2 separate regions of the Homo sapiens genome follow, and region 2 is reported to be linked to region 1. Evidence: microRNA targets listed by miRTarBase, many of them from high-throughput screens and not tested one by one. Region 1 holds a microRNA gene; the other region holds the end of a gene's coding sequence.
Evidence for each region. Region 1 holds the annotated microRNA hsa-miR-6872-3p (CCCAUGCCUCCUGCCGCGGUC, at 2,024-2,044, opposite strand). A microRNA usually pairs through its seed, bases 2 to 8, with sites in the 3' UTR of a target mRNA and lowers its output. Matches are read on the target gene's strand: a 7mer-m8 pairs with bases 2 to 8, a 7mer-A1 pairs with bases 2 to 7 and ends in A, and an 8mer does both.

Region 1 (3,410 bases):
GCTACGTACAGCTGGTGCTAGGGGGCACGAGGGGCTCTGGGCTGACCGAGGGCGACCCCACGCCTGCCTCCCATCGGTCAGGGATCCCTTCTTCCACTCGACAGATGGGAACACTGAGGTCTTACGCCTCAGGTCACACAGTCTAACAAAGCCAGAGCCTGTACTCAAACCCGGGACTGCAAACTACCAAAAGGGGCCAGAGGCTTGGGACGCGCCAGGCACAAGCTCAGTCCATCCCACCCCGACCCCCATCCTGGTCACTCACCCTCTTGGAAGAAATTTGCATGCTGGTGACAGCGGCCGAGTCCTGAGAGGGAGGAGGGGCGACGGGGTCAGGGCTTAGTGGGGTGGGGGGGTCCCGGGCGACTGGGGGTGAGGCCTCACCTCAAACACGTGCAGCTCCTCCAGGAGCAGCCCCTCTGCGCTGGGCCTACTGCCCTTGGGGACCGAGATCACCTTCAGCACCGTGCCAACGTCTGCAGGGATGAGAAGGGGTAATGACCATTGGTGCTCCCGGACAGCTGGGGCTAGTGTCTCCTCGCCTTTGAGGCGTCTACCCTCAGCATGTTTGGGTTGTGAAGAGTGTGGACTGGAAGAGTGTGGGTTGGGCAGCATCCACAGGGTGGAGACACAGCCCAGGAAAGGATGTGGAGATGGGACTGAACAGGGAGAGCTTCCATCAGCAGCCCACAGGGCCTGGCTGGGAGCCTGGGGGTCGCTGTGGAGGGACCCTGACCTGTGCCAATGAAGAGGACGTCATAGTGTCCGTCAGCGGCTGCAACCCGGTCCGCGGCAATTTGAGTGAAGGTGTAATTGGCTCCAACTTGTAGGAAAAGAGGGCGCCCCCCAGTGGGCAGGACAGAGTTGTACATGAGGGGGTGGTTCCGCGCAAACTGGATGACATCGTCTGGGAAGTCCTTGGTGGAACTGAAGGTGCCAAAGGTCTTGCTGGGGCACTGGGGGTGGGGGAAAGGGAGGCACAGCAGGGATATAGATATGGGGGCTTGATAGGCAGCCCTCCATGCCCAGCCTCTGGGAACATGGAGGGGGATGGGGACAGAACCCTGCCCTGAGAATTAGAGAGGAGATCAGCCTTGCCCTAGGAAGTCAGAGGCGGGAAACAAGCCTTGTCTTATGATGGAAACGTTTTCCCACCCATAACTAAAGGAAGAAACCACATTCACCAAGAAGACCCCAGGCCAAGTTCTCAAACCCTTGAGGCTTTGAAGTGGGTTGTAGCAGAAGTCCCTGGGCTACGAACCATGCCTGGCCGCGGGTAGGGGACGCGACCCTGGTATGACACCCACTGGTGCATGGGCCCCTCCTTGTGTGCAAAGGGTCCCAAGAAGGCCCGGCGCACGTCGTTCATGCTGTACACGCACACCGCAGAGCCCTGGAAGATGCTGCTGGAGGCGAAGACCAGGGCGAGGTGAGGGGCCGGGTGGAGCCCAGCGGCCCGCCCCGGGCGCTCCCTACCTCCTGCCCCTCACCTGGACGTGGAGAAGACGGCATAGAGCAGCGGGGTCCGGTGGTCCCGCGAGGACAACAGAAACACATCCTCTGCGGGGAAGGGGCCTAGCTGGGGTAGGGCGCACAGCCCCGCTGCGGCGGGGGCTCCCGGAGTCTGCGCCGCTGCCCCCCTCCCCAACCCCATACCCACTCCCGCACTCACGGAGCTGATCGAAGTGGGTGTCGCCCTCGACGCCGGGCACCGAGCACACCAGCCGCGCCTTCAGGAACGTCGTCCACTTGTTGACCAGGCTGCGCTGGCCGCCCACGTCGTTCTGCCGGGACGATCAAAGGGGATGAGGGCGAGACCAGGGCAGGCAAAGGGGTAGGGGCAGGGTCGCCGGGTGTGGCCCAGGGACTCCTCACCCGGCAGATCTGGCCAACGCGGGACACGGACAGGCGTCCCAGTGCCGGCGCCGCCTCTACCGCCGTCTCACGAAAGAAGAAGTAGATTTTGTCGTCGTCTGGGTTCTCGCTCTCCGGGATCCAAAATACCTTGACAAACTTGGGCTCTGACCGCGGCAGGAGGCATGGGTCAGCGGGTCCTGGCCTTGCCTCCTGATGCGAGACCCACGCGCTGCTTCCCCTTCCCGTAGTGCGGGCACAGCACCCGGGATCACAGTGTCTGACCACCCAACCTCTAGCACCATGTCCAGTTGGCGCTCTGCGCGGACCGAATCCAAAGGATCAGGGCCTGCGAGGCAAGAAGCAGCCGCGAGGGGGCAGCAGAGACCGTGGCTACCTGGGGGCGCAGGCGTGAAGCCCGGCTAGCCTCCGATCTCGCCCCACACGTCGCCCAGCACCTTAGGCTGGGGTAGGAGGGAGATGAGGTAATCTGGTTTCACCTTCACTCATGAATCTTCCTCTCTAGCATAACCAGATGCTCCCCACTCCTGCTTCAAATCCTTCTGCTGGGTCCCATTGCTCTTTATTATTATTATTATTATTATTATTTGTTTATTTATTTATTTTTTGAGACAGTCTCGCTCTGTCGCCCAGGCTGGAGTGCTCGATCTCGGCTCACTGCAACCTCAGCCTCCCAAGTAGCTGAGATTACAGTCAGAGCCTACCACCACACCTGGCTTTTTTTTTTTTTTTTGAGACGAAGTCTCGCTCTATTGCCCAGGCTGGAATGCAGTGGCACAGTCTCCATTCACTGCAACCTCCGCCTCCTAGGTTCAAGCGATTCTCCTGCCTCAGCCTCCTGAGTAGCTGGGATTACAGATGCACACCATCATGCCGGACTAATTTTTGTATATTTAGTAGAGACGGGGTTACACCATGTTGGCCAGGCTGGTCTCAAATGCCTGAACTCAGGTGATCCGCCCGCCTCAGCCTCCCAAAGTGCTGGGATTACAGGTGCACACCACTGCACCCGGCCAATTTTTGTATTTTTTAGTAGAGACAGGGTTTCACCATGTTGGCCAGGCTAGTCTCAAACTCCTGGCCTCAAGCGATTTGCCTGCCTCCGCCTCCCAAAGTGCTGAGATTACAGGTGTGAGCCACTGTGCCCACCAGCCCATAGCCCTTATTTAATTTTTATTTGATTTAGAGACAGGGTCTGCTCTGTCCTGCAGTGGCAGCATCATGGCTCACTGCAGCCTCCAACTCCTGGGCTCAAGTGATCCTTCCATCTCAGCCTCCTGACTAGCCAGGACTACAGGTGTGTGCATGCCACTGCCCCCAGCTAATTTTATTTTATTTTTTGTCTTGCTTTGTAGCCCAGGCTGGTATGAAACTCCTGTCTTCAAGCAATCTGTCTGCCTCAGCCTCCCAAAGTGCTGGGATTACAGGTGCAAGCCATTGTGCCCAGCCCCCATGACTCTTAGAATAAATGACTCTGGCCCCTGACAGTCCAGGCCCCCTTTTCATTGCTAGCTCTGCAAGTCTATTCCTTTGCT
Region 2 (3,410 bases), not on the chromosome of region 1:
AGTCTTTGGAGCAAATGAAACTGTTGACCCTTTGATAGTTCTGAAGAGCAAATGAATCCTAGTACATTGAAGAGTACCGTACTCTATCTGGCACTTAATTGCCTTTCTTGACTTGCAAAAGGAATTCCATTAACTTGCCTTATAGATACTGATGACTAACACCAATAGAGGTGTTAGAAAAAAGGGTGATAGGCAATTGAAGGGTTTATTTTGTTTTACTAACGTACCCAAATAATGTTGATTATTAACTTGATTACAGACTGGGACCATTGGTGATGAGAAGGCAAACATGTTCAGAAGTCAAGTAACTGGAAAAATAAACCTCCTTGGCCTGATAGAAATGATCTTACTCAGTGTTGGTGTGGTGATGTTTGTTGCTTTTATGATTTCATATTGTGCATGCAGATCGAAAACAATAAAATAAGTAAGTATGTACCAAAAAATATTGCTTCAATAATATTAGCTTATATATTACTTGTTTTCACTTTATCAAAGAGAAGTTACATATTAGGCCATATATATTTCTAGACATGTCTAGCCACTGATCATTTTTAAATATAGGTAAATAAACCTATAAATATTATCACGCAGATCACTAAAGTATATCTTTAATTCTGGGAGAAATGAGATAAAAGATGTACTTGTGACCATTGTAACAATAGCACAAATAAAGCACTTGTGCCAAAGTTGTCCAAAATTGACTGGTTCATTTCTCAATTATATAGCTAGTTATATATTATCTGATACTTAAAAATAATTGACTAGGAAATGGTTTCATAAGACCAGGATTGCTGCATGTAGACATGCTGGCCGTGCATTTTCCAAATCCAGAAAAGTCCTGAACAAAAATTTGAATATAATAGTATCAGGAAATAGGGGAAAATAGTGTTCAACATAGTAGAACCAAGTACTCAGAGTGGTGTACAAGAGTTTAGGCCTCTATGCTTTAGATATTAGTGTCCATGCACTCTTAAAGATGAATGAATGCCTGACCTTTCCTAAAGGAAAACCTTTTTTTAGTTATCACAGGTAACATTGGTGTTGCCTGTGGGGGAGAATTTTTTACTTTCTCCCTATTTTTCTTCAGCCCACCTCAAGGCAATGTAAATAAAAGCAGTATGTGTGTTATAATAACTTATTTAGTTGTTTACTGTGTGCCAGTACCATGCTAAAGAAAGATTCTTTATCTCACATGATCCCTAATACAATTTCATGATTTTCCAATAGCCTGGATTCATCAGCATCCATTCTATCTTCTAGAGATGTTCCATGAAATCATACATTTTAATTGTTTGTGACCAAAGCATAAATCAGTGAAAGTGGAATTTGGGGACCAATAATTTCCTTTTGTGAGATGGAGAGCTTGTGTTTGAAAAGGCAACCTAATTTTTGGTTCTAATCACTTCTACCACTATTTAGTCACCAAAAAGACAATAATTCTGCATCCAAACTATTTGGACAGAATGGCTTCAAAATGCTAGCCTAAAATGTTCACATTATAAAAAGTTAAATATTACCTTCAATACCTGTCAGTAGCCTACTGACAAATTATGACTAAACAAAGGTATTTGTATGACTATGTAATAGATCATCCGCTGAAAAGTAAAACAAAATAACAAAAAAACTTGTCCTAATGGGAAAGCATGCTTAATAAAAGGAAATGCAGAAGTTATAAACATGTTTTGTAAGTAAGTATTCAGAATTAAAATTATGTGATACATTTTTATGATTGCTTAATGATCCTTGGATGTCAGATTCCTTGGGTCTATTTATAGCTAAATTATAATGAAAAATTCAAGGCTTGCTGGAGCAACTTTGTCAACAAATATATTAGTTTTGCTTATATATTTGATTTTTATGTGGAAAAATTACTACCCTTTTTTACAAGCAGAGAATAAACTGTTGATTACTTGATTTACTAGATTTAGAAGAATCACAAAAGATATGTAGATTTTCTTAAGCAAAATTCAGCTCTTAATATCATAAAAATTATATCTTTGGGCAGATTTGTAAACAATAGGAACAAGTAAGAAGACAGGTATGTAAGAAGTAGCAAAGTGTAAGACGGTGGAGCTTTAATGTGTGGTTTTACTCAGGGGGTCACAAGAAAATAACCCAATGGTCCTTTTGAAAGTAGTACATACACCTTTAAATGGAACTTGGTCTGAAGGGTGTGGAAATGCTGGTCCAGGGCAGATGCACTTCAGCTACCGTTCCTTGCCTGGTGTGTGCTTGTCTTGAAGCACCCTTCTTATGTGCCTTTCTGGAATGGGAATGTGTTTTGCCCTATTGGTGAAGTCCGTTAGAGAACTTCTCTCTGCAGCTAGAGAAACTGAACTGATTAATAAAAAGTATGATATCTAAGATATACTGCCACTCTACAGGTAGTAAATGATTCTTCACATTTGTGCGCCAGCTACATCATGACCCTTGGTAATACCGACCAACAGGATGAAAATTGGATATGCTTTACTTTTACAAAGCACACCTTATCTTTTAGTTGAAGAAATGGTGGCACTATTTCTTTTTTTGCACTAAGCAACTGCACATTTCAAAAGGATTATTGAGATGTTATGAAAATCTCTACCTTGCACAAAAAAAAACCCAGCAGCTTTTAAAATTCATCATTTCCACAACTGAATTGATTTCCGTTTCTACAGACCTGGCTCAAGCACAAACCAATTTGTGTTGTTCTGATTCAATAATTGGTTTCTGGGTGGCCAATTCAGAAGAAGAGTGTACATGCTCAACAAATCCTAGGCCCTGCATTCCTGTCATCCTCATCCGGGGGAAACACCATCATCCCAGTAGCTGCCCTATTCAACTGCAACAGTCTCCAGGACCATCAGTATACTGCATTTCATGTGCACCAAATATTTTGAAAGACATTTATAAATAATTGGCTTATGACTCATATTTCTCTATGAATACCTTCATACAGCAGGTATAACTCTTTTCTTTATGGGCTTAAATATTTTGTCACTGATCCTGCAAATGGACATCATTTTAGCACACTAGCGGTTTATATTTTAAGGACCTTCATTCTCTGTTCTGCACCTCTTCTGGAAATTGAGTAAATTTTGCTTTTTTTTTTTTACTCAGTTGCAACTTACGCTTGGCATCTTCAGAATGCTTTTCTAGCATTAAGAGATGTAAATGATAAAGGAATTATTGTATGAAATATTACAAAGCGTAGACTATGCATTGTTATTCATTATAATATTTTTTGCTGTCATAATCGCCTCATAAAGACAGGTTTCAACCATTAAAATATGTTCTTCCTTAAATTCCTGTGCTTTTTCTAGTTCCTCTTGTGTCATAAAATGTTTATCCTAATTTTCTCTCTGAAGTATATTTTATCTGAATCCACATTTCTTTATAAATCCATAGTCCTTGCTGAAATATGCTTT

Region 2: the mRNA of CD36 is a reported target of hsa-miR-6872-3p. The part of its 3' UTR that is shown has no 7-base or 8-base seed match.

What each region holds. Positions count from the first base shown.
Region 1 is chr3:50,271,909-50,275,318 of GRCh38, reverse strand. It overlaps MIR6872 (microRNA 6872), which reads right to left and starts at 2,083; the gene lies at 2,022-2,083. It overlaps SEMA3B (semaphorin 3B), which reads right to left. Exons shown (of 17, transcript NM_001290060.2): 7 at 1,876-2,021; 8 at 1,673-1,784; 9 at 1,491-1,560; 10 at 1,262-1,406; 11 at 737-956; 12 at 385-476; 13 at 266-307; 14 at 1-17. RefSeq lists enhancers at 1,443-1,966, 1,945-2,144.
Region 2 is chr7:80,673,724-80,677,133 of GRCh38, forward strand. It overlaps CD36 (CD36 molecule (CD36 blood group)), which reads left to right. Exons shown (of 15, transcript NM_001001548.3): 14 at 260-424; 15 at 2,661-3,410. The coding sequence ends at 424. Among named protein-coding and RNA genes, the nearest start is that of CD36, 37 kb to the left of the region's middle.